7 linked regions of the Homo sapiens genome follow. The protein of the gene in region 1 purifies or fractionates together with the protein of each later gene. This does not show direct contact. Each region holds a gene or a part of one and is shown in the gene's direction. Other genes may lie near its edges.

Evidence for each region.
Region 2: the proteins of ANXA9 (region 1) and PKP1 purify together in Homo sapiens (affinity purification with mass spectrometry; one large-scale study listed by BioGRID and IntAct). This does not show direct contact.
Region 3: the proteins of ANXA9 (region 1) and PLCD1 purify together in Homo sapiens (affinity purification with mass spectrometry; one large-scale study listed by BioGRID and IntAct). This does not show direct contact.
Region 4: the proteins of ANXA9 (region 1) and DSG4 purify together in Homo sapiens (affinity purification with mass spectrometry; one large-scale study listed by BioGRID and IntAct). This does not show direct contact.
Region 5: the proteins of ANXA9 (region 1) and HEPHL1 purify together in Homo sapiens (affinity purification with mass spectrometry; one large-scale study listed by BioGRID and IntAct). This does not show direct contact.
Region 6: the proteins of ANXA9 (region 1) and ARL8B purify together in Homo sapiens (affinity purification with mass spectrometry; one large-scale study listed by BioGRID and IntAct). This does not show direct contact.
Region 7: the proteins of ANXA9 (region 1) and TRIM69 purify together in Homo sapiens (affinity purification with mass spectrometry; 2 studies listed by BioGRID and IntAct, with this or other methods). This does not show direct contact.

The regions. Positions count from the first base shown.
Region 1 is NC_000001.11:150,981,091-150,985,091, forward strand, and holds the start of ANXA9 (annexin A9), read left to right. Parts: upstream 1-1,201; 5' UTR 1,202-1,289; intron 1,290-1,396; 5' UTR 1,397-1,493; intron 1,494-1,999; 5' UTR 2,000-2,015; coding exon 2,016-2,090; intron 2,091-2,247; coding exon 2,248-2,344; intron 2,345-2,884; coding exon 2,885-2,979; intron 2,980-3,190; coding exon 3,191-3,304; intron 3,305-3,495; coding exon 3,496-3,586; intron 3,587-4,001. UniProt on the Homo sapiens protein: Low affinity receptor for acetylcholine known to be targeted by disease-causing pemphigus vulgaris antibodies in keratinocytes.
Region 2 is NC_000001.11:201,321,506-201,325,005, forward strand, and holds part of PKP1 (plakophilin-1), read left to right. Parts: intron 1-472; coding exon 473-628; intron 629-1,507; coding exon 1,508-1,684; intron 1,685-2,922; coding exon 2,923-3,076; intron 3,077-3,435; coding exon 3,436-3,500. UniProt on the Homo sapiens protein: A component of desmosome cell-cell junctions which are required for positive regulation of cellular adhesion.
Region 3 is NC_000003.12:38,006,996-38,009,819, reverse strand, and holds the end of PLCD1 (1-phosphatidylinositol 4,5-bisphosphate phosphodiesterase delta-1), read left to right. Parts: intron 1-8; coding exon 9-167; intron 168-388; coding exon 389-548; intron 549-661; coding exon 662-778; intron 779-1,183; coding exon 1,184-1,362; intron 1,363-1,452; coding exon 1,453-1,585; intron 1,586-1,656; coding exon 1,657-1,806; intron 1,807-1,961; coding exon 1,962-2,047; 3' UTR 2,048-2,324; downstream 2,325-2,824. Other genes in the region: VILL (villin-like protein), read right to left, coding at 2,765-2,824. UniProt on the Homo sapiens protein: The production of the second messenger molecules diacylglycerol (DAG) and inositol 1,4,5-trisphosphate (IP3) is mediated by activated phosphatidylinositol-specific phospholipase C enzymes. Essential for trophoblast and placental development.
Region 4 is NC_000018.10:31,411,277-31,414,776, forward strand, and holds part of DSG4 (desmoglein-4 isoform 2 preproprotein), read left to right. Parts: coding exon 1-172; intron 173-1,551; coding exon 1,552-2,319; 3' UTR 2,320-3,500.
Region 5 is NC_000011.10:94,066,354-94,069,853, forward strand, and holds part of HEPHL1 (ferroxidase HEPHL1 precursor), read left to right. Parts: intron 1-617; exon of another isoform or gene 618-942; intron 943-1,081; exon of another isoform or gene 1,082-1,142; coding exon 1,143-1,397; intron 1,398-3,500. UniProt on the Homo sapiens protein: Is a copper-binding glycoprotein with ferroxidase activity. It oxidizes Fe(2+) to Fe(3+) without releasing radical oxygen species. May be involved in the regulation of intracellular iron content.
Region 6 is NC_000003.12:5,128,792-5,132,291, forward strand, and holds part of ARL8B (ADP-ribosylation factor-like protein 8B), read left to right. Parts: exon of another isoform or gene 1-24; intron 25-3,500. UniProt on the Homo sapiens protein: Small GTPase which cycles between active GTP-bound and inactive GDP-bound states.
Region 7 is NC_000015.10:44,739,528-44,743,027, forward strand, and holds part of TRIM69 (E3 ubiquitin-protein ligase TRIM69), read left to right. Parts: intron 1-3,500.

The DNA.
Region 1 (4,001 bases):
GAAGCTTACAGAACATAGGTGGCAGAGCTGGATATTGAACCCTCATTCTCCAGTTCTGACACAGGTGCATGTTTTCCTTTTAACAGGAGAGAAAAGTGAGGAGCAGTGATTACCGCCACAGAAATATCCTTTCATGGCGTGTCCTCCGGCATGGTCTACTCAGTGTGGTGGAGCCACTGCAGGTCCCTCCTCCAGGGATGTAGGAATGCCAGTGAAGGCCTTCCTGAGTTGGGAGAGAGGCAGAGGAGTGAGTGGAGGCAGGGCTGTAGCTTCTGTGCCCCGCCCCTACCCAGGCTCTCCAGGGAGGCAGGAAAGAGGCTGTGTTTAGACCTGAGGGAGCCAGCTGTGAGGCTGGAGCAGTTGCTGCATGGCGGGGCGGGGGCTCCACAGGGCTGTTCACCTGCTGCTCTGTGCAGAGACAGCCTCAAGTCCAGCTGCTGGGGTTGCATCACCTGCAGCTAAAACAGCCACAGGGCCCAGGCTGCCAAAAGGCAACAGAAGCAATCTAAGAAACCAGGCAAGGGAGCCTCCCCCATCTCCCTGTTGCCTTTTGGGAGCATAGAGCTTCCCTCTGAAGGTAACACCCTTTGCATTTTTCTCTCTTGACTCTGTTCATCAACTTCCACTCCCAAATACTTGTGCCCTTCCTTCTCCACAGATATACACAATCCCTGGGCACTCTCCACCTAGGTCAGCTGGCTCTAGTAAGGCAGCAGTCAAGGGAGTTTCTGGGCTGGGACCCCCTCTGGGGTGCAGGCTGGGGTGCCCTGCTGGTATGTGCCCCAACAGGTTTTTCCCTATCAGCCTTGAAATCAGCCTGCAGCCTGTCTGACCTGCCCCCCAGGGAGCTGGAGCCAGAGGCAGAGCCAGGTCAGAAGCTGGGGCAGAGCCAGGTCAGAAGCTGGACTTTGAGACTAGGTCTCTGTGGTCCCACCTGGACCCACAGGGAAGGCAGTGCATAAAAGCCTCCTGTGTTTGAGGCTGAGCCGCTGAGAGGCTGAGTGGAGTTCACTCACATGGATTGAGGCCCAGTTCCTGGGAGAAGAGATGCTGGGCAGGAAGGTGTCTGCATGTGGGACTCTGTACAGCCCGGTCCTCTCCCACGTCTGGGAGGGGCCAGAGTCAGACAACTGCTGGGTTCGTCCCTAAGAGAGGTCATCTGACTGGCTGTTCAGCCTAGGCTGCACACACCCCCACTTTCCTCTACCAGGCCACACCGGAGGCAGTGCTCACACAGGCAAGCTACCAGGCCACAACAACGACACCCACCTCACCTCTGGCACCTCTGAGTAAGTACTGGGCCCACGGCCCCATGCCAGGAGGGCTTGTTGATTGCTTGGGGGAGGGAAAAATGAGTTTTCCTTTTCCAACATGAGAGTGCCTCCTTTCTGTCCAGGCATCCACGTACTTGCAAGAACTCTTGCTCACATCAGCTAAGAGATTGCACCTGCTGACCTAGAGATTCCGGCCTGTGCTCCTGTGCTGCTGAGCAGGTAGGCAGCTGTACAGGCAGGAATTGAGGGTTGCTTGTCAGCTGGGGCTGCCGGTGGGGGAAGATGCTATTTCGAGTTGTCTTCCACTCTGCGTGGTTAATCCTGCCACCTCACCTCAGCTCCCCTGCACTGCCCAGGAGACCCCAGCCAGGCCCAGGAAGGAGGGCCATAGACCTCAGAAGGGAGGCATCTACCGCGGACCAAGGCCTGAGGAGCTTTGGTGCTGACCCTGGCATCAGGGAGGGTTGGCGCCTGGTCCAGGAGCATTCCGCATCAATCCCCACTTCCTAAAGGAGTGGGGAGAGGTGGGGAAGGTGGGGGCTCCCCTCTTACCTCACCATTTCAGCTCCATTTCTGGCTCCAAGCCTAAGCAGGTTGATCTTTTTTTCTGCAGCAAGGAAAGGAACAGGTGACTGGAACCCAGGGTCCAGGGTCTCGGGGGGGTCATAAGGAGTCCCTGAAGGGCCAGGAAATTCAGCTCTGTGGGCTCCTGTTTCCTTCCCCAGGGCAACCAGTAGCACCATGTCTGTGACTGGCGGGAAGATGGCACCGTCCCTCACCCAGGAGATCCTCAGCCACCTGGGCCTGGCCAGCAAGGTAGGGGCTGTTGGGATTTTAGAGATCACTTTTAGTATCTCAGCTCGGGCTGTGAGAGGATGGGAGGCAGGAAAGTGGAGGACAGGCCCTGAGGTTATGCTGAGGAGGTGTAGGCAGCCTGGCCCTGGCCCTTGCCAACTACCCTGTGCTCCCACAGACTGCAGCGTGGGGGACCCTGGGCACCCTCAGGACCTTCTTGAACTTCAGCGTGGACAAGGATGCGCAGAGGCTACTGAGGGCCATTACTGGCCAAGGTGAGCCCCTTTCCCCCGGCACTTGAGACTGCCTTTTAGAGCCAATCTGTAGACCAAGGAGGAGCCAGGAAGGAGGAACTAGTGATGTTGGAGAAATGTTTGTGGAATGCCTTCATTCTTGTATGTCAGGCGCCACAGTAGGTGTGTCAAACCCATTCTCACAACACCCCTGTGAGGCAAGGCTTATTATTTCCATTTTCCAGATGAGGAAACTGGGGCTCAGGGAGATTAAGAGGCTTGCCCAAGGTCACTCAGCTCATGACGGAGGTGGTATTCTCATCTAGGTCAGCCGATCCCCCCAAGTCGTATTTTTTTTTAACCACCACACCAGGCCACCTTTGCCTTGGTCTGGGTCAGATTTGCATGCTGTTTTGACATTTTATTTGCAACTTCTTTTGAGATAAAATGGAAGTGGGGGTGATATAGCCCCTGCTCCTTTCCTTCCCAGCCCTCTCCTGGAGCGCCTTCCCTCCTCCAAGGAGTAGGAACATCCCACTATGTAAAGACCCTGCTCACAGCACAGCCCTCATCTCGGTTCAGGCGTGGACCGCAGTGCCATTGTGGACGTGCTGACCAACCGGAGCAGAGAGCAAAGGCAGCTCATCTCACGAAACTTCCAGGAGCGCACCCAACAGGTGAGGCCATGCTGACCTCCCACAGCAGTGGACTGGGGTGAGAAACCCCCTGGAGGACTCGAGAGACAGCAACAGCCGCTGAGGCCAGCCCCTGCTTCCTGGCTAAACAGGGCCTGAGATGAAAACCAGCCAAATCTTCCCAAACCTCCCCACACTTCTGGGGCCCTTCCCCTCACCCCCGTCCCTCTGCTGTGAGGACCATTTATTGTAGGACCTGATGAAGTCTCTACAGGCAGCACTTTCCGGCAACCTGGAGAGGATTGTGATGGCTCTGCTGCAGCCCACAGCCCAGTTTGACGCCCAGGAATTGAGGACAGCTCTGAAGGTAGCAGGAGGGGAGACTTGCTGGGGTGTCTGGGGAAGGGAGAAGGCTGTCAGCCTTGCTTTTGCAAGACGAGAGTCCCCCTCTCGTCGTCCCATATTGTTTCTTAGAAGGAGAAGCAGCCAGCGTCTGCCCCTCTGTCTGCCATCCTAATGACACGGCCAGTCTGAGAGTAGACTCCCAATTTCTTGTAGGCCTCAGATTCTGCTGTGGACGTGGCCATTGAAATTCTTGCCACTCGAACCCCACCCCAGCTGCAGGAGTGCCTGGCAGTCTACAAACACAGTAAGAATATAGAGGGAGGGGTCCCAGATGCTGGAGAAGGGGCTGTAGGACAGGCCACTCCTCTCCTGTACTCCCCATAGGTGAGCTATCTGGCAACCTGGCTGCCTAAGTTCTATTCCCTTGGGGTCTTTCCTCTTGCCCCCACCAGTGCCTCAGTCTCTCAGGGGAGAGACCCAGATGTGATCATTAAAAAAAGAGAAGCAGGCCAGGTACGGTGACTCATGCCTGTCACCCCAACACTTTGGGAGGCTGAGGTGGGCAGGTCACTTGAGCCCAGGAGTTCAAGACCAGTCACAGGCAATAAAGGAAAACCTCATCTGTGCTAAAAATTCAAAAAAACCAGCTGGTCATGGTGGTGTGCGCCTGTGGTCCCAGCTACTCAGGAGTTTGAGGTGGGAGGATCACCCCAGCTTGG
Region 2 (3,500 bases), about 50 Mb from region 1:
AATGATGGGGGCACTAGATGGCTTTGGAATCTAGAGGCATGGGGCTTCTTCTGGAGGAGTTTGTTCTGGAAAAAAAAAAAGACACATTCTTCAATATCCCAGTCTGCCCATTGGCATGTTGTCCATAGCAGTCCTACCACACACTAGGCCCTGTGATAAGTGCTTTCTCTGTATCATCTTCCAAATAGCCTAGTGAAATGGACAATTGTAGTCTCATTTTACATTTGAGATAGCTGAGGCCCAGAGAAGTGAGGCCAGTCAAGTTCATGCAGCCAGGAAATGACAGATTCAAACTCAGGTCCCAGAGGTGGCCCTGGAAGACTTCCCAGGCTGATAGTGTGGTGGTGCCTGCGCTCATCTTTCCCGATGCAGCCCAGGTGCCTCTGCTCTCTTATTAGCTAGGGTAGGTGGTAGGCCAGGAGCCTGTCGGGCCGGGCAGAGGCTCAGGCCCATGCCTCTCCTTGGTCCCCAGTCTGTGGAAAACTGCATGTGTGTTCTGCACAACCTCTCCTACCGCCTGGACGCCGAGGTGCCCACCCGCTACCGCCAGCTGGAGTATAACGCCCGCAACGCCTACACCGAGAAGTCCTCCACTGGCTGCTTCAGCAACAAGAGCGACAAGATGATGGTGAGCACAGCATCAGCAGGGCGGGGCCTGCCCCATCAAGCACCCCCCCAGGAGCCACTGCCTCATCTGCCCTTTCCTCTGGGCCCTCCTGGAGCCTGAAGCCAGCCCTAAGGGACAGGCCCATGCTGACACCTTGGCCTGGGGCTCAGGGTGCACTCTGGGAGCTGGGTAGAGGCCATTCATCTTGCACAAGGGGGAATCTGTTCTTGGAACTGTAGGGGCTCAGACCACCTTAGAGGTCAAAAACTCCAGCCTTCTGTTTGCAGGCCTTGGTCTTTCTTCCTGTATAGTGGGTCAAGTCTCCCCCATCTTCTCCCTTGCCCTTGAGGATCTGAGGAAAGCCAGAACTCTCACTCTTTCTGGCCTTGGTTCCCACCATCTCCTGAGCCCTGCCAGGTTTCCCCAGAAGCAGAAGCCTACCAGGGATGGGTTGTCAGGTCTCCTTCACTGGGCCCAGCTGTGGAATCCAGGTCTCAGACCACCCTCTTTGGCCCAGGGTGGGTCAAACCTACTGTCTGAGTCTGGAAGAGGAGGAAGCATCATGATGGGAGAGTCCAAAGCAGCCCCACATATCTGGAAGGTTTGGGCCAAGGCTGCCCTGGAACACAGCTCCCAAGATGCCAGGATGCTCTCTTCTCCCACATCCTGGGACAGTCTGGGGGACCATGGCCCATTCCTGCATCCCATGGAGCTGCTGCAGTGCATAGAGGAAAGGGGTGCAGCGGGGCTGTCCTGGGCCCCCTGCCTCTGCAGGCGCTTCCTCAGCTTGCCCTATCTGGAACCACGACCCTGAGGCTGGGGGGATGGGGACAGAATGCCTGGGTTGTGTCCTCTCACAAGGCTCCCCATTGACCCCCCTGACCGGCTCTTTATCCTCAGAACAACAACTATGACTGCCCCCTGCCTGAGGAAGAGACCAACCCCAAGGGCAGCGGCTGGTTGTACCATTCAGATGCCATCCGCACCTACCTGAACCTCATGGGCAAGAGCAAGAAAGATGCTACCCTGGAGGCCTGTGCTGGTGCCCTGCAGAACCTGACAGCCAGCAAGGGGCTGGTGAGTGGGACTGTACCTTCTCTACTGCAGCAGCCCCATCCTCCAGCCACCGTCCAGCCTCTGCTCCCTCCTTTTCCCCCCAGCCTGTCCCCTGACTTCGGAGCCTCCCATGAGCAGAGTGTGCCTGGCATATGCTGGGCTCTGGGCTGGGCAATGGGGAAACACTCCTGCCCTTTAGGAGCTGCTGGGGGATGCAGAGAGGGTGGGCCCACTGATGCTGGATTCTGTCCATGCACACACAATCCCCTTGGCCACATGGCTCCCGGTCCCCAGCTGGCCTCCTGGGCTCTGCTTGAGGTCGGGGAATGCGGCGGAGAAGGTGTTTGGCAAAAGGAGTTTCCCATTTGTTGAACTGACAAAGGTGGAAAAAGAGGGTTTGGGGTCCAAGCAGGTCCAGAGAAGATGTGACAGAATCCGTGCAGATGTTGAGGCCAAATGTATGTAGCTTGGAGGGCACAGTGGTATGGGGCAGAGCCAGAGGAAACCTGTTGCAATCAAGAAGAGTTGAGATGGGCCAGGCGGCCAACTGTTCTTCAGCTTTACTTAGGAAAAGGGAACCGAGCAGCAGCAGCACTAGAGTAGACCGAGGGCAGAGAACTTCCCTGGCTGTGAGGAGAGAGGCTGGGCAGTTCTGAGAATGCCAAACCCACCTAGACCTGTTACACCCAGGATAGCTATGTTGCTTAGAGGCCTGGGCGAACTGGCCTACCTCTAGGGGACCCCAGTTCTCTCTCCATGTGGGCCCAGACCCTTTCTTAGCCCTCTTTTCTCAGGCAAGCCCTCAACAAATATGTGTTGGATTCTAAAGAGGTAGGAAAGTTGGAAGAAGATGGCCAGATGTTTAATTGACAAATACCCTTGACCATATAGTTTCACATGGGCAGATAGCGTGGGGAGATGTAATGGGGGCAGCGCTGAGACAGTGGGGTGAGAGAGCAGCATTGGACGCTTGGGTTACTCTGGAAGCTAACTCTGGGTCACTATGAGTAGGGGAAATGAGACTTCCCTCTCTCCACCCATCTGGGCTGCAGGCTGATCCAGGAGACAGGATCAGGGCTGGGAAAGGGGAGGTGCATGTTAGCCTAGGTTTCTGTAGTTGCCCACATGTGAGCTAGTGCTTCCAATATGAAAGAGAAAGGGTTCTGGGATGTCTGCCTTTGGGGCTCCTTGCCCCTTTCTGCCTGCCATGGTGCCTGGGAAGCCACAGGCTAGCTCATCATCTACTCCTTCTCTCTTAGATGTCCAGTGGCATGAGCCAGTTGATTGGGCTGAAGGAAAAGGGCCTGCCACAAATTGCCCGCCTCCTGCAATCTGGCAACTCTGATGTGGTGCGGTCCGGAGCCTCCCTCCTGAGCAACATGTCCCGCCACCCTCTGCTGCACAGAGTGATGGGTAAGGTCCCTCTCTCTCCTCCCCCTCTAGCTAAGACATGGCAGGCTCCCTACAATTCAAGCCTGCTTGAAGGTCATCCTTTAAGCCATTCCCTGGGATGAGCATTCCAAGAAAGGAAGCTGGCCAAAGACAGGTATGGAGACAGGAGAAGGGAGCCTGTCACCTGAGGGCTGGGAGCAGATCTGCAAAAGTCCTATCTGGGTCTCTGAGCCCTGAGTTGGAGCTGCCAGGAAGCCCTGAGGGCCACCTGGCTCAGAGCCCGGCAGAAGGCTATCGAAGAGTGTGGCCCCAGAGGGAACCCCTCAGCCCTTCCTTCCCCAGTCATCCTGACCCTGTGCCCCAACTCGTTCCTCTCCCAGGGAACCAGGTGTTCCCGGAGGTGACCAGGCTCCTCACCAGCCACACTGGCAATACCAGCAACTCC
Region 3 (2,824 bases), on another chromosome or scaffold:
CCACCTAGCAACTGAAGGGGAAGATCCTGCTGAAGGGGAAGAAGCTCGGGGGGCTCCTGCCCCCTGGAGGGGAGGGTGGCCCTGAGGCCACTGTGGTGTCAGACGAAGACGAGGCTGCTGAGATGGAGGATGAGGCAGTGAGGAGCCGTGTGCAGCACAAGCCCAAGGTTTGAGGGGGAGCTGTGGGGTGGGGCAGCCCGGGCCTTCCCCATCCCCTCACCCGTGGGAGGTCTGCCTTGTCTCAGTTCTCTGTGGCTGCCACTCAGACCCTCTGCCCCGCTCTCTCTGTCTGTCTCCCTCTGTCTCTCTGCGCCTGGGTTTCTGGCTTTCTCAGTGCCTACCCTACCCCAACCACTGAATCTAACCCGGGCCTCCCCGTGTTCCCCAGGAGGACAAGCTCAGGCTAGCACAGGAGCTCTCTGACATGGTCATTTACTGCAAGAGTGTCCACTTTGGGGGCTTCTCCAGTCCTGGCACCCCTGGACAGGCCTTCTACGAGATGGCGTCCTTCTCTGAGAACCGTGCCCTTCGACTGCTCCAAGAATCAGGTGAGGCCTGGCTCCCCACCACTCCCCTGCTCTGTTACAGAGAGAATTGGCAGGGCAGGGCTTGGGCCTCACCAGGAGGCCTCCACTGCTGACCGAACCACACCTCCCCTCAGGAAACGGCTTTGTCCGCCACAACGTGGGGCACCTGAGCAGAATCTACCCGGCTGGATGGAGAACAGACTCCTCCAACTACAGCCCCGTGGAGATGTGGAATGGGGGCTGCCAGATCGGTATGGGCTGGCTGGGGCTGGAGGAGGCCTGGAGGAGGGTTTCAGTCCCAAGGCCGGGGGCCTGGAGCCTCGAAGGCCATGCAGTGGAGCTCTGAGGACCCAAGCAGGGTCAAATGCAGGGGCTTGTGGAGCTGGTAATATCAGTCTGGAAATATCTGCCCACCAGCATGTCACAGTGTCTGAAACCTCATTAGCACACTAGTCCTTTGAATTCTCACACCAGGAATGGAAGGTGTGGTTAGCATGGTGGGTCACTGAGGGTGGCAGGAGGGCAGCAGGCATTGGAGTGATGCTGGGCCCTGCTAACTCACCATGTGACCCTAGGCCTTAGTGTACCCTGAGCAGGCTGTGCTCTAGGGCCCCAGGGCCAGCCCACAGCCTGTGACTGCTCTGTCCTGCCTGTAGTGGCCCTGAATTTCCAGACACCTGGGCCAGAGATGGACGTGTACCAGGGCCGCTTCCAGGACAACGGGGCCTGTGGGTACGTGCTGAAGCCCGCCTTCCTGCGAGACCCCAACGGCACCTTTAACCCCCGCGCCCTGGCTCAGGGGCCCTGGTGGGCACGGAAGCGGCTCAACATCAGGGTACGCTGGACCTAGGAGGGACAGGTGCCCACGGACCTCCCTTCCCCGCTACCACTCCTGAACTGTCCATTGTCCTCTGCCTTTCCTCAGGTCATTTCGGGGCAGCAGCTGCCAAAAGTCAACAAGAATAAGAATTCAATTGTGGACCCCAAAGTGACAGTGGAGATCCATGGCGTGAGCCGGGACGTGGCCAGCCGCCAGACTGCTGTCATCACCAACAATGGTAGGTGCTGGGCCTGGGCTGGGCTACTAGGGCTGGTGTCCATGCTGCTGATATGGTGCCTGTCCCCCTAGGTTTCAACCCATGGTGGGACACGGAGTTTGCGTTTGAGGTAGTTGTGCCTGACCTTGCCCTCATCCGCTTCTTGGTGGAAGATTATGATGCCTCCTCCAAGAATGACTTCATTGGCCAGAGTACCATCCCCTTGAACAGCCTCAAGCAAGGTGAGTGTCAAGAGAAGGGGATGGCCAAGGTGGTGGGAAGCAGGGCCTGGCGTCTCTTGGGCTGGGGCTGGCTGTCCCTTGACGCATCCACCCCCCCTCCGCCGCCGAATGACCAGAACTCTCTCTGTGTTCCCTCCTGCCTGTCCACCCACCAGGATACCGCCATGTCCACCTCATGTCTAAGAACGGGGACCAGCATCCATCAGCCACCCTCTTTGTGAAGATCTCCCTCCAGGACTAGGCTGGAGGAAGCCAGTGGGGTCCCCCCTGAGTGGGCTGGGCCCTCTGTCCACATGTGGGGACAGGGCTGGTGTGGCTGCTCCCAGCCTCTTGCTCAGAGCTAGGCCCCCAAATTGCCTTCAGCCCTAACATAGTGTCTGCTGCTGCCTCCCTGGGGACCAGGAGCTAGCCCAGTCCCTGGAGCTGTCCTTCATTCCGTTAGGAATAACACTGCAGCCCTCTCCACCCTCCGGCCAGCGAGTGGTCAAGGATTTTTATAAAAATCACGATAAGATTAAGCCTTGTGGTCTCTTTACCTGGATGCCAGAAAAATCCCCTGTGAAGCGTGTGTGTGTGTGTGTGTGTGTGTGTGTGTGTGTGTGTGTGTGTGTGTCCCCATGTCCTAGAGTGCTGGAGCCCTAGCACCTCACTCTCCACCTTCCTTGCACATAGTTGAGTAGGGCAGGGGTATCTGGAGAGACCAACGAGAAATAAACCCCTCTGTGGGGTGGCACTGAGAGCTCACACCCGCCAGCCCTGGAGGCCCCTTCCCCTGAGAGGTGGACCTGCTGAGTGGCCCGGGCTTGAAAGCACGCATACCACAGCTCGTATGGGCTGCCTGCTTTTACTGACACGCAGAGGATGACCAAAAGCCTCTGAGGGGAGTGGAAGCAGGGCCTCCCCAGCATTGTAGGTATGTTGGGGTCCAGGGGATAGGGGCAGTCGAGAGGGCTTGGGTTCAGAAGAAGCCCAGCTGCTTTTTCTCCTGCCGCTGCCTCCACGTGGCCATGCTGTAGAA
Region 4 (3,500 bases), on another chromosome or scaffold:
TGTATCGGGAGTGGAGCTCAACACAGGTATGGGGACAGCCGTTGGCCTCATGGCCGCAGGGGCCGCAGGAGCCTCAGGGGCCGCAAGGAAGAGGAGCTCTACCATGGGAACCCTGCGGGACTACGCTGACGCAGACATCAACATGGCTTTCTTGGACAGCTACTTCTCGGAGGTAATGCCCTCACAGTCACACATAAAATCGTCTTGAGATTGAATAATAATAATAGTAAAATACTCACAATGGTAGTAGGCCTCTTCGGAAATATGCTGTTATTCTCAACCCTATCCCAAACCTGAATAAAAAGTATTTCACGTCTCCTTAAAACACAAAATGCTAATTTGCCACAGGATTTCATATTCAACTGCCATAGCGCATCTTAGTACCGTGAACAAGGCCACACCCCTCATCATTCTCCACTTCCCTTTTCCATTTTTCTATCTTTTGTTTCCTTGATTCCTCACCTTGTTTCCCACAGCAGTAGCAAAGCAGGAAAATGCTCATCAAGGGGAAAAAAGGTGCATTTATGACCTCTGTTTTTGATGTCCTTCATGTTCTCCCGGAGCCTCCAACAGAAAAGAGAAAATAAAAAGAATTGGGAACGAAAGGAGTTAAAACTCAGGAACGCAGCATCACCACAACTCGTGCTAGATTAAGACCTAGAAGATAGCTCTCCTATTCTCAGTCCAGTGACTTATCCACCAACTGACCTTCACTACGAAAAGGGGTCCAGCAATAGCACTGCTGGGTATATATCCAAAAGAAAGGAAATCAGTATATCAAAGAAATATATGCACCCCCATGTTTATTGCAGCACTAGTCACGTAGCCAATACATGGAATCAACCTGTGTCCATCAACTGATGATTGGACTTCTAAAATGTGATTCATATACCCAATGGAATATTATTCAGCCATAAAAAATGAAATTTTGTCATTTTGCAACAACATGGATGGAACTGGAGGACACTGTTAAGTGAAATATGCCAGGCACAGAAAGACTAATTTGACATGTTCTCACTCATCTGTGGAAGCTAAAAGGAAAAACCGAACTCATGGAGATAGAGAGTAGAATGATGGTTACTAGAGGCTGACAAGGGTAGTAGGGAGGGGAAACAGTGGGATGGTTAATAGGTGCAAAAATACTGTTAGAATGAAGAAGATCTAGTATTTGGTAGCACAACAGGATTGCTATAGTTAACAATAATTTATTACACATTTTAAAAGAACTAAAATAGAACTAGAATTTTATCTCATATTTCAGTCGGCCTGCTTTATTCTCCATCTGTTCATACATGAATTTCACCATGATTCTTTACCAAACAAATGCTGAAGATGTTGTTGCAATTGTAAACTATATCTTAAAATTGGTAGTTACAAATGCTATCACAGAATGTGCATGGATAGTATCAATTATTTTAATGAGTGATTGATACCATTATTCAGTTTATTCCGTAACAACTTAACTCAGAAGTCTCTCTGAGGGATTGCTGTTATTCTTCCTTATTTTAGGGAAAAAGAAATTTCTAATTCTGTATTTCCTTTTAATTTTAGAAAGCGTATGCTTATGCAGATGAAGATGAAGGTCGACCAGCCAATGACTGCTTGCTCATTTATGACCACGAGGGAGTCGGGTCTCCCGTAGGCTCTATTGGTTGTTGCAGTTGGATTGTGGATGACTTAGATGAAAGCTGCATGGAAACTTTAGATCCAAAATTTAGGACTCTTGCTGAGATCTGCTTAAACACAGAAATTGAACCATTTCCTTCACACCAGGCTTGTATACCAATCAGTACTGACCTCCCTTTGCTCGGACCTAATTACTTTGTTAATGAATCTTCAGGATTGACTCCCTCAGAAGTTGAATTCCAAGAAGAAATGGCAGCATCTGAACCCGTGGTCCATGGGGATATTATTGTGACTGAGACTTACGGTAATGCTGATCCATGTGTGCAACCCACTACAATTATTTTTGATCCTCAGCTTGCACCCAATGTTGTAGTAACCGAAGCAGTAATGGCACCTGTCTATGATATTCAAGGGAATATTTGTGTACCTGCTGAGTTAGCAGATTACAACAATGTAATCTATGCTGAGAGAGTACTGGCTAGTCCTGGTGTGCCTGACATGAGCAATAGTAGCACGACTGAGGGTTGTATGGGACCTGTGATGAGCGGCAATATTTTAGTAGGGCCAGAAATTCAAGTGATGCAAATGATGAGTCCAGACCTTCCCATAGGCCAAACCGTTGGCTCCACATCCCCCATGACATCTCGACACAGAGTAACACGATACAGTAACATACATTACACCCAACAGTAAGTGCTTTATGGTCAGTATTCTATGTGGAGACCTTGCACCTTGTAATCATCAATACATCCACCAAAAATATATAATGTACCATATATATTAATAGTCAACAAATACTCAGATATTCTAAGGTCAATGCCATTATTTGATTATACCATTTTGAGGGTGAATATGGCTAGGCACTTTAGATAAGCCTTTTTAAAATTCTTTCTGATTTTAAATAATGCGTCAAAAAATGTGCAGAAAATGTATTGCATCCCTTGATACTGTCTAACGAATAGCACATAACTCATATTGTGAATCCTATGGGTCTTGAGGCCTGTAGAACCAATCTTGTAAACCAAGATGCCTTGTTCTTGGAAGTTACAAAAGAAGCCCTGTCTACATCCACCAGCCATATTTTTCGTTAGGGAAATATTTATATTAAAATTTTTAATTGAAAAGTTGAATGAAATGTACATTCTGAAAGGAAATTGAAAAGGAACGTAGAGTATCTGTCAATATCTTTAGATATCTGAAGTCATTTGTCTCTTCAAAAGATTTTTCAATATTATGCGCTATTAAGCAATAGGAGATGCTTAATATAATAAGAAAAGAGTTTGCCAACTGAAAGCATGGCTGGAAATGGTTCATCAAAGAAAAATATATATTTTTATTGAACTTTATTGATTTATATGATTAACTGTAAATTAATCTAGAATAGCAAAAAAAAATGACAATCCTAAAGTAGAAAGAGTTATTGGGGAAATATTAGAGTTTTCCCCACTTACAGGGAATTTTTTCCCTACTGTTGCCAATTATGTCAGAAAAATACATGAAATATGGCTTAACCAATTTCATTGACCTGAATCGTAGAGCTTTCAATTGGCAACCAGATATTCTCCAAAAGCACTCTGTAGTTATTCATATATTCTACAATATTTACTTAGAAGCAACTAGGTGTTGGGTGCTAGTCTTGGCTCTGTGAATATACAGGTAAAGAAGACAGACATGGTTTCTGCCTTCATAGAGCTTCTATTCATTTCTAGACTTAAAATAAAACTCTGGGATATGGCTTTAAGTTCCTAACAACAATAATTAACCAACTACTTAAGTCCATTACCAAGTTGTGTTTCTCTTTGCAACACTACTGTTTATGTTGAATAAATAAAATGGAAACACATTGCTTACTTTTCGTAGGCATAAAGCTGACT
Region 5 (3,500 bases), on another chromosome or scaffold:
AGACCAGCCTGGCCAACATGGCAAAACCTGTCTCTACTAAAAATACAAAAATTAGCTGGTCATGGTGGTGGGCACCTGTAATCTCAGCTACTGGGGAGGCTGAGGCACAAGAATCTTTTGAACCCAGGAGACAGAGGTTGCAGTGAGCTGAGATTGTGCCACTGCACTTCAGCCTGGGTGTGACAGAGCGAGACTCCATCTCAAAAGAAAAAAAAGAGAGAGAGACTGGAAAAAGAGACCTAATCAAGTAAAGGAAAAAATTTAATTAAAAAAATCTAGACTATGGAAGATAATTAATATGTACAAGTTTTATTGATCAATTTATTTAAATTTACTAAAATAATTTAGAATTAATTGTGCTGCCTAAGTCATCAGGCATTTCAGCAACAATTGCTTTTAACTCAGTTCGAACTTAAGAAGGGATATTGTGACTTTTTAAAGCCCTGAATCAAGTTCTTTTCTGAACTTGGTCAACTCCCAGCTGCCATTTAGATGGTTTTAAAGTATTCGGTCCTGGATTTACGCCATAAACTTAATAAGATTCTGCTCCAGCAACATGTAGTAAAAACTGTTTTTCTCTTGGCTTTTTAAAGTAAACAAACAAACAAACAAAACAGTTCTCATAAATTCCTTTTAATCAATTCCTTTTCTTTCCATCTTACTACATGCTTTTGTCACTTCATTAAGTAGATACTATGTGCCAGTTTTTCTGCTAGGTCCTGATAACTGTTAAGATGAACAAGACAGGGTTTCTAGTTCCAAGGAGCACAGAATCTGGTGAAGACAGCAGATATGCCAGTGAAGGATTATGACAGAAGGTGACTGAGCCTCCTGTAAATATGAGCAGCACTCTGTTTTCTCCTGACCTCATATTGCGTTCCCACAGCAGCTCCGAGGCTGTTCTCAGTGTATGCTGATCTTCACTTTTATTGAGTGTTTTCTCTGGAAAAAGGCCAATAAAAACATTTCATTTCTCTTTTGGACAATATATATTTCTAAGAGCCAGGTTTTTCTGCACCAAAACCTTACAACCAATGGTCTGCACTGGTTTTCCAGCCATGCTTAAGCCCGTATTACCAACATTTCTGGTCCCAGTCGCCTCTGCAGGGGAGTCTCTTCCACTAGCGTGTTTCTGTTTCCAGCCCTCAATGGATACCTCTTCGGAAACTTCCCGGAGCCTGATATGTGTGTTGGAGAATCTGTGTCCTGGCACCTATTTGGAATGGGGAATGAAATAGACATCCATTCTATCTATTTCTATGGTAACACCTTCATCAGCAGAGGGCATCGGACTGATGTCGTCAACCTGTTCCCAGCCACCTTCCTTACAACAGAAATGATAGCCGAGAATCCTGGGAAGTGGATGATAACCTGCCAGGTCAGCGACCACCTACAAGGTAAAAAGGATAAAGACCAGAGTTGATATGTTTAGAATGGTACAATCAAACCACACAGTCACTAGTGCTCATCCAGTACCTACTGTTAGATAGAGCCTTGTATGTACTATATTTAATTAGGTAATAAATATACAGGAAAATATAACGCTCATCTCTTTGATATTCTATCAACAGATATTTATTGACCACTTCTGTATGAAAAAAGTGGGGAAGTGATTAAAAATTGATGAGACCTTCGAGGAACCTGTAGTATAGTTGTTAGACATAGTTAGACATTCACAAAATGAATACGATTTAAGGCAGAATGAGATAAATGCTCTTTGGGTGTTGCAGTCACTACTCTGGAGCAATCAGAGGGGCTTCCTGAGGAGCTGGCTCCTAACATGAGCCTTGAAATATGAGTAGGAACTGAATAGATGAAGAAGGAAAGAAAGACTTTTGAGGAAGCAGCATGAACTGGGAAAAACACATGTTCTTTTTGAGCAACTGTAAGTAGAGTAATAAGGTTTTAGCACTGGAAAGGACTTTCTGGATAATAAGGACCAATCCCCCCTCGAATTATTTAATTTCGTTTTGAACATCTCTTGTGAGTAGTTATAGCAGCTCATCTCATCTCTGGACTGCTCTATTGGAATGTTCTTCCTCAAATTGAGACAAAATCCATTGACCTATAGCTTCCTTCATGTCCTATGATAGGTGCATGATAAACATTTGTTGGCTTAAATGCCTGTTGAATGACCTGGTCCTGGTTTCTTCAGACATCATACACTATGTCCTTTCTTAGCTGGACCATAATGTTCCTTACAGAGAAGTGATGACAGAAGAGCCTGGGAGGCTCATCAGGCCCCTTAGCAAAGCTAAGGAGGTGGGGCTGTGTGATCCTTAGCTCTTTTGGCACACTAGTGACATAATCGGTGCAGTTATTTAAGAAGATAAATGTATGCATGCAAGAAGGACTTGATGGAGGAATTCTGACCACTGGATGCTAGTTAAGAAGCATTTGACAGTGTTAGAGGTCTAACACCTAAACGTCTGCCCTAAGATGATGAAACCAAGACAGAAAAAATATGTTAATGGAATAGACACAGAAGAAATAATGTCTGATATTTGGATACTAACTTCCCATAGTCACTAATAGGTGCAAAGATCCAGCTGCTCAGGGCTGCTTTTGTAACACATTCTTGTTCCTGTCCACCTTCCACAGTGAGTCATAGCATTAGTCAACTGCAGTATCCCAATTACATTCAACTGAAAAATTAATCAGTTAATATGTACTAGATGCTCTTCTGGGAAAACAAAGATTAACAAGAGAAGGTTTCTATTCTCAAAGAGTCTTATGCTGTTAAATCTGGGAAGAAACTGTAGATTTAAAATCAAGATATTAGCTGCCATTTGAGACTAGTAAGATCGCTAAATTAGCCCGATAGTTGTGGACATAAGCTAGTATTTATACGTTCCCTGAAATACAGTATTTCTAAATTGTCCATGCCTTCAGAAAAAAGTTATTGTAAAAAAATTAGAAAATACATATAATTGGAGGTTTTTTAACAAATAGAGACAGGGTCTTGCTATGTTGCCCAGGCTGGTCTCAAACTCCTGGGCCCAAGCAATCCTCCCACCTTAGCCTTTCAAAGTGCTGGGATTATAGGCATGAGCCACTGGATCTGGCCCCTATAAATTGGTTTTAAAATCAGTAGTTCCATAATAGAAATATTTTATATTCACATTTTGGTGAATATCTTCCCTATTTTCTATTTCTTAATATGTAAATATATATGTATTTTAAAAAATGAAATCAGTCTATTAATGCTGCACTGTAGCTAATTTTTCTCATTTACAAATATATCAGAAACACATTTTCATGTCGGTGAATATAGAGCTTACTTCATCATGGTTAATACTTCCAGTGTCCATTATAAGGAGATTACATCTTGCTTAATCAATACTCTATTGCTTAATGCTTATGTTTCCCACCAATTTTTTTGCTATTATAAACAGCACTGATGACTATTATTTATAGATGTTTGCACTTTTGTCTGAACATTTTCTTAGAAAAACTCCTAGATTTAGAATTTCTGGGTCAAAGAGTATGATTTTTTTAAA
Region 6 (3,500 bases), on another chromosome or scaffold:
AGCATTTCGTTTTTGTCTTCTTAATGTGTATATCCAGATGTCTTTTAAAAAGTTCTGAGATAATATTACTTATAATGCTTTATATTCTGGTTTAATTGTTACAGTGTATGCATTTTTCTATCTAAAACATTTTTCATGTCTTCATAGTTTATTCCATTGTGGTATGTCTTGTGGATATGCCATAACATATTTGGTAATTCCCTTATTGGACATTTGAGGGATTTTTCCTATGTTTTCCTATTGTACTCAATTTGATCTGCACTTCCTGAGGATGTGTTCCAGAGTTGGTATTTCTGGGTCAAAAACGCATTTTATGTCATATGGCCAAATTGCTTTCCAGAAAGTGTACACTCCCACTGAGAAGGTCTGAACAGTTTTTGTTTTTTGTTTTTTGTTTTTCCAGATAGAGTCTCGCTCTTGTTGCCCAGGCTGGAGTGCAGTGGTGTGATCTTGGCACACTGCAACCTCCACCTCTCGGGTTCAAGCAATTCTCCTGCCTCAGCTTCCCAAGTAGCTGGGATTACAGGTGTTTGCCACCTCGCCCAGCTAATACTGAGCAGATTTCATATATAAAGTTGGACTTTGGTTAAGCACTTTGTCCTCTGGTATTTTTTAGGACAAACATAGTTTTGTTGATGAAGTAGAACGGTATTTTAAAATTATCCTATTAGATACTGCTCTGTTTGTGTTTAATATATTTTAAGAAGTTCCTTTTTATATTTCAGCAACTGCCAAGACTGATAACTATAGAGAACATAATTCTTTCTGAGACAAGTTCTTGCTCTGTTGCCCATGCTGGAGTGTAGTGGCATGATCATGGCTTATTGCAGCCTCCACCTCCTGGGCCCTGGCTCAAGAGATCCCCCCACCATAGCCTCCCAAGTAGTAGGGACCACAGGCGTATGTCACTACGCCTGGCTAATTTTTTTAAACAAGATTTTTGCTGCTGGGTGTGGTGGCTCACGCTTGTAATCTCAGCATTTAGGGAGGCAGAGACAGGAGGATTACTTGAAGCCAGGAGTTGAAGACCAGCCTGGGCAACATAGTGAGGCCACATTCTCCACATTCTCTCTCTCTCTTTTTTGTTTTTCAGACAGAGTCTTGCTCTATCACCCAGGCTGTAGTATAGTGGCATGATCTTGGCTCACTGCAACCTCTGCCTCCTGGGTTCAAGTGATTCTCCTGCCTCAGCCTCCCAAGTAGGTGGGACTACAGGCACGTGCCACCACACACAGCTAGTTTTTGTATTTTTAGTAGAGACAGGGTTTCACCATGTTGGCAAGGCTGACCTCGAACTCCTGACCTCAGGTGATCTGCCTGCCTTGGCCTCCCAAAGTACTGGGATTACAGGCGTGAGCCACTGCACCTGACCAAGGTCATATTCTCTTAAAAAAAAATATATATTTTTTTTTTGTAGAGACTTCATCTCACTGTGTTGCTCAGCCTGGTCCCGGAACTCCTGGGCTCAAGAGATTCTCCTGCCTCAGCCTCCCAAAGTGCTGAGATTACAGGCAGGAGCCACCACGCCTGCCCCTGAGAACATAGTTCTTTTTTGTTGAGCTTCCCAGGCAAGCCATGTAAATATAAATACAGCTCATCCCCTTTACTTATCATGCTGCTATTTTGTTTTAGAAGTATTGGTAGATTGCATATTCCATAACCCTGATATATTTCAGTATAATCCTTACCTAATCTTGGACCTATTATAGTGGGATGCTGCTTGCTTGCTTGTGTGTGTGTGTGTTTTTTTTTTTGGCGGGGGGATGGAATCTTGCTTTGTTGTCCAGGCTGAAGGGCAGTGGCATGATCTCGGTTGACTGTAACCTCTGCCTCCTGGGTTCAGATGATTCTCCTGCCTCAGCCTCTCCCCAGTAGCTGGGATTACAGGCTTGCGCCACTACGCCTGGCTATTTTTTGTATTTTTAGTAGAGATGGGGTTTCGCTACGTTGGCCAGGCGAGTCTTGAACTTCTGACGTCAAGTGATCCGCCCGCCTCGGCCCAGGCATGAGCCACCACGCCCAGCCTATGAACCTATATTCTTACTTCAGTATGCAAAATGTAGCATAATGTTAAGAATGAGGTTGCTTAAAATCTAGGCTACACACATAGTTAGGCCTGCCTTTTCTTCGCTCTTTTCTTTTTTTTCTTTTTCTTTTTTTGTTTTTGAGATGGAGTCTCACTCTGTCATCCATGCTGGGAGTGCAGTGGCACGGGGATTCAAGTGATTCTCCTGCCTCAGCCTCCCGAATAGCTAGGACTACAGGCACCCGCCACCACGCCCAGCTAATTTTTGTATTTTTAGTAGAGACGAGGTTTCACCATGTGGGCCAGGCTGGTGTCAAACTCCTGTGATCTGTCCGCCTTAGCCTCCCAAAGTACTGGGATTACAGGTGTGAGCCACCGTGCCCGGCCACCATTTTCTTGAAAGCTCATTTTGTCCGGAGAATGTTTTAATGCCAATACATGGACTTCATCATTTGTAAATAGTTCTTATCAGAGGAAAATCTAGGAAAAGAAAGGAAACCTACATTTCTCTCCTTCATAATTTAGCTATTTCGTTTCTAGCTTTTGGCAATCTTATTTCAATAAAAAAATTAAAAAATTTTTTTTTTTTTTGAGACAGAGTCTCACTCTGTCACCCAGGCTGGAGTGCAGTGGCGCGATCTCGGCTCACTGCAACCTCCGCCTCCCGAGTTCAAGCGATTCTCCTGCCTCAGCCTCCTGAGTAGCTAGGGTTACAGGCGCACGCCACCATGGCCAGATAATTTTTGTATTTTTAGTAGAGACAGGGTTTCACGATGTTGGCCACACTGGTCTTGAACTCCTGACCTCAAGTGATCCACCCACCTCGGCCTCCCAAAGTGCTGGGATTACAGGTGTGAGCCACTGCACCCAGCCTACCCGTTTCTTAAAAATATTAAATTGACGTTACAGGTTTTCATTAACCCTTATATGAATATTTTGGTTACTGCCATTATTTTCTACTCTTAAGTGACTGAAATGTTTAACTTTGGTTTTTGTCTTTTTTTCAGAGTTCCGGTAATTTCAGAAATGAAATGATTTGACTAGTTTTATCCTTTGAATTTTTCTGTCATTCTTTCCTTTTTTTGAGACAGGGTCTCACCCTGTCACCCAAACTGGAGTAAAGTGGCATAATCATGGCTCACTGCTGCCTCAACCTCTTGGGTTCAAGCAGTCCTCTGCCTCAGCTTCCTGAGTAGCTGGGGCTACAGGCATGTGCCGTCATGCCCAGCTAATTAAAAAAATTTGTTTTTTTGTAGAGGTGGAATCTTGCTGTATTGCTCAGGCTGATCTTGAACTACTGGGCTCAAGCTGTCCTCCTTCCTTGGCCTCCCAGTGTTGGGAGTACAGGCATGAGCCTGTACTGTGCCTAAGTCCTCCCATCCTTTCTGTAGTAGGTATTGCCCTAAGTTAGGATTGATCATATTCCCTATGATCATCATTATTATTTTTTTTTTTGAGGCAGAGTCTCACTCTG
Region 7 (3,500 bases), on another chromosome or scaffold:
ATACTGTGCTTTTCCGACGGGCTTAAAGAACGGTGCACCAGGAGATTATATCCTGCACCTGGCTCGGAGGGCCCTACGCCCATGGAGTCTCGCTGATTGCTAGCACAGCAGTCTGAGATCAAACTGCAAGGCGGCAGCGAGGCTGTGGGAGGGGCGCCCACCATTGCCCAGGCTTGCTTAGGTAAACAAAGCAGCCGGGAAGCTCGAACTGGGTGGAGCCCACCACAGCTCAAGGAGGCCTGCCTGCCTCTGTAGGCTCCACCTCTGGGGGCAGGGCACAGACAAACAAAAAGACATCAGTAACCTCTGCAGACTTAAATGTCCCTGTCTGACAGCTTTGAAGAGAGCAGTGGTTCTCCCAGCACGCAGCTGGAGATCTGAGAATGGGCAGACTGCCTCCTCAAGTGGGTCCCTGACCCCTGACCCCCTAGCAGCCTAACTGGGAGGCACCCCCAAGTAGGGGCAGACTGACACCTCACATGGCCGGGTACTCCTCTGAGACAAAACTTCCAGAGGAATGATCGACAGCAGCATTCGCGGTTCACGAAAATCCACTGTTCTGCAGCCACCGCTGCTGATACCCAGGCAAACAGGGTCTGGAGTGGACCTCTAGCAAACTCCAATAGACCTGCAGCTGAGGGTCCTGTCTGTTAGAAGGAAAACTAACAAACAGAAAGGACATCCATACCAAAAACCCATCTGTACATCACCATCGTCAAAGACCAAAAGTAGATAAAACCGCAAAGATGGGGAAAAAACAGAGCAGGAAAACTGGAAACTCTAAAAAGCAGAGCGCCTCTCTTCCTCCAAAGGAACGCAGTTCCTCACCAGCAACAAAACAAAGCTGGATGGAGAATGACTTTGACAAGTTGAGAGAAGAAGGCTTCAGATGATCCAACTACTCCGAGCTACAGGAGGAAATTCAAACCAAAGGCAAAGAAGTTAAAAACTTTGAAAAGAATTTAGATGAATGTATAACTAGAATAACCAATACAGAGAAGTGCTTAAAGGAGCTGATGGAGCTTGCTGTATTCAGGAAACCCATCTCACATGCAGAGACACACATAGGCTCAAAATGAAAGGATGGAGGAAGATCTACCAAGCCAATGGAAAACAAAAAAAGGCAGGGGTTGCAATCCTAGTCTCTGATAAAACAGACTTTAAACCAACAAAGATCAAAAGAGACAAAGAAGGCCATTACATAATGGTAAAGGGATCAATTCAACAAGAAGAGCTAACTATCCTAAATATATATGCACCCAATACAGGAGCACCCAGATTCATAAAGCAAGTCCTGAGTGACCTACAAAGAGACTTAGACTCCCACACAATAATAATGGGAGATTTTAACACCCCACTGCCAACATTAGGCAGATCAACGAGACAGAAAGTTAACAAGGATACCCAGGAATTGAACTCAGCTCTGCACCAAGCGGACCTAATAGACATCTACAGAACTCTCCACCCTAAATCAACAGAATATACATTTTTTTCAGCACCACACCACACCTATTCCAAAATTGACCACATAGTTGGAAGTAAAGCTCTCCTCAGCAAATGTAAAAGAACAGAAATTATAACAAACTGTCTCTCAGACCACAGTGCAATCAAACTAGAACTCAGGATTAAGAAACTCACTCAAAACCGCTCAACTACATGGAAACTGAACAACCTGCTCCTGAATGACTACTGGGTACCTAACAAAATGAAGGCAGAAATAAAGATGTTCTTTGAAACCAATGAGAACAAAGACACAACATACCAGAATCTCTGGGACACATTCAAAGCAGTGTGTAGAGGGAAATTTATAGCACTAAATGCCCACAAGAGAAAGCAGGAAAGATCCGAAATTGACACCCTAACATCACAATTAAAAGAACTAGAAAAGCAAGAGCAAACACATTCAAAAGCTAGCAGAAGGCAAGAAATAACTAAAATCAGAGCAGAACTGAAGGAAAAAGAGACACAATAAACCCTTCAAAAAGTTAATGAATCCAGGAGCTGGTTTTTTGAAAGGATCAACAAAATTGATAGACTGCTAGCAAGACTAATAAAGAAGAAAAGAGAGAAGAATCAAATAGAAGCAATAAAGAATGATAAAGGGGATATCACCACTGATCCCACAGAAATACAAACTACCATCAGAGAATACTACAAACACCTCTATGCAAATAAACTAGAAAATCTAGAAGAAATGGATAAATTCTTCGACACATACACCCTCCCAAGACTAAACCAGGAAGAAGTTGAATCTCTGAATAGACCAATAACAGGCTCCGAAATTGTGGCAATAATCAATAGCTTACCAACCAAAAAGAGTCCAGGACCAGATGGATTCACAGCCGAATTCTACCAGAGGTACAAGGAGGAACTGGTACCATTCCTTCTGAAGCTATTCCAATCAACAGAAAAAGAGGGAATCCTCCCTAACTCATTTTATGAGGCCAGCATTATCCTTATACCAAAGCCGGGCAGAGACACAACCAAAAGAGAGAATTTTAGACCAATATCCTTGATGAACATTGATGCAAAAATCCTCAATAAAATACTGGCAAACTGAATCCAGCAGCACATCAAAAAGCTTATCCACCATGATCAAGTGGGCTTCATCCCTGGGATGCAAGGCTGGTTCAATATACGCAAATCAATAAATGTAATCCAGCATATAAACAGAACCAAAGACAAAAACCACATGATTATCTCAATAGATGCAGAAAAGGCCTTTGACAAAATTCAACAACGCTTCATGCTAAAAACTCTCAATAAATTAGGTATTGATGGGATGTATCTCAAAATAATAAGAGCTATCTATGACAAACCCACAGCCAATATCATACTGAATGGGCAAAAACTGGAAGCATTCCCTTTGAAAACTGGCACAAGACAGGGATGCCCTCTCTCACCACTCCTATTCAACATAGTGTTGAAAGTTCTGGCTAGGGCAATTAGGCAGGAGAAGGAAATAAAGGGTATTCAATTAGGAAAAGAGGAAGTCAAATTGTCCCTGTTTGCAGATGACATGATTGTATATCTAGAAAACCCCATTGTCTCAGCCTAAAATCTCCTTAAGCTGATAAGCAACTTCAGCAAAGTCTCAGGACACAAAATCAATGTACAAAAATCACAAGCATTCTTATACACCAATAACAAACAGAGAGCCAAATCATGAGTGAACTCCCATTCACAATTGCTTCAAAGAGAATAAAATACCTAGGAATCCAACTTACAAGGGACGTGAATGACCTCTTCAAGGAGAACTACAAACCACTGCTCAATGAAATAAAAGAGGACACAAACAAATGGAAGAACATTCCACGCTCATGGATAGGAAGAATCAGTATCGTGAAAATGGCCATACTGCCCAAGGTAATTTATAGATTCAATGCCATCCCCATCAAGCTACCAATGACTTTCTTCACAGAATTGGAAAAAACTACTTTAAAGTTCATATGGAACCAAAAAAGAGCCCGCATCGCCAAGTCAATCCTAAGCCAAAAGAA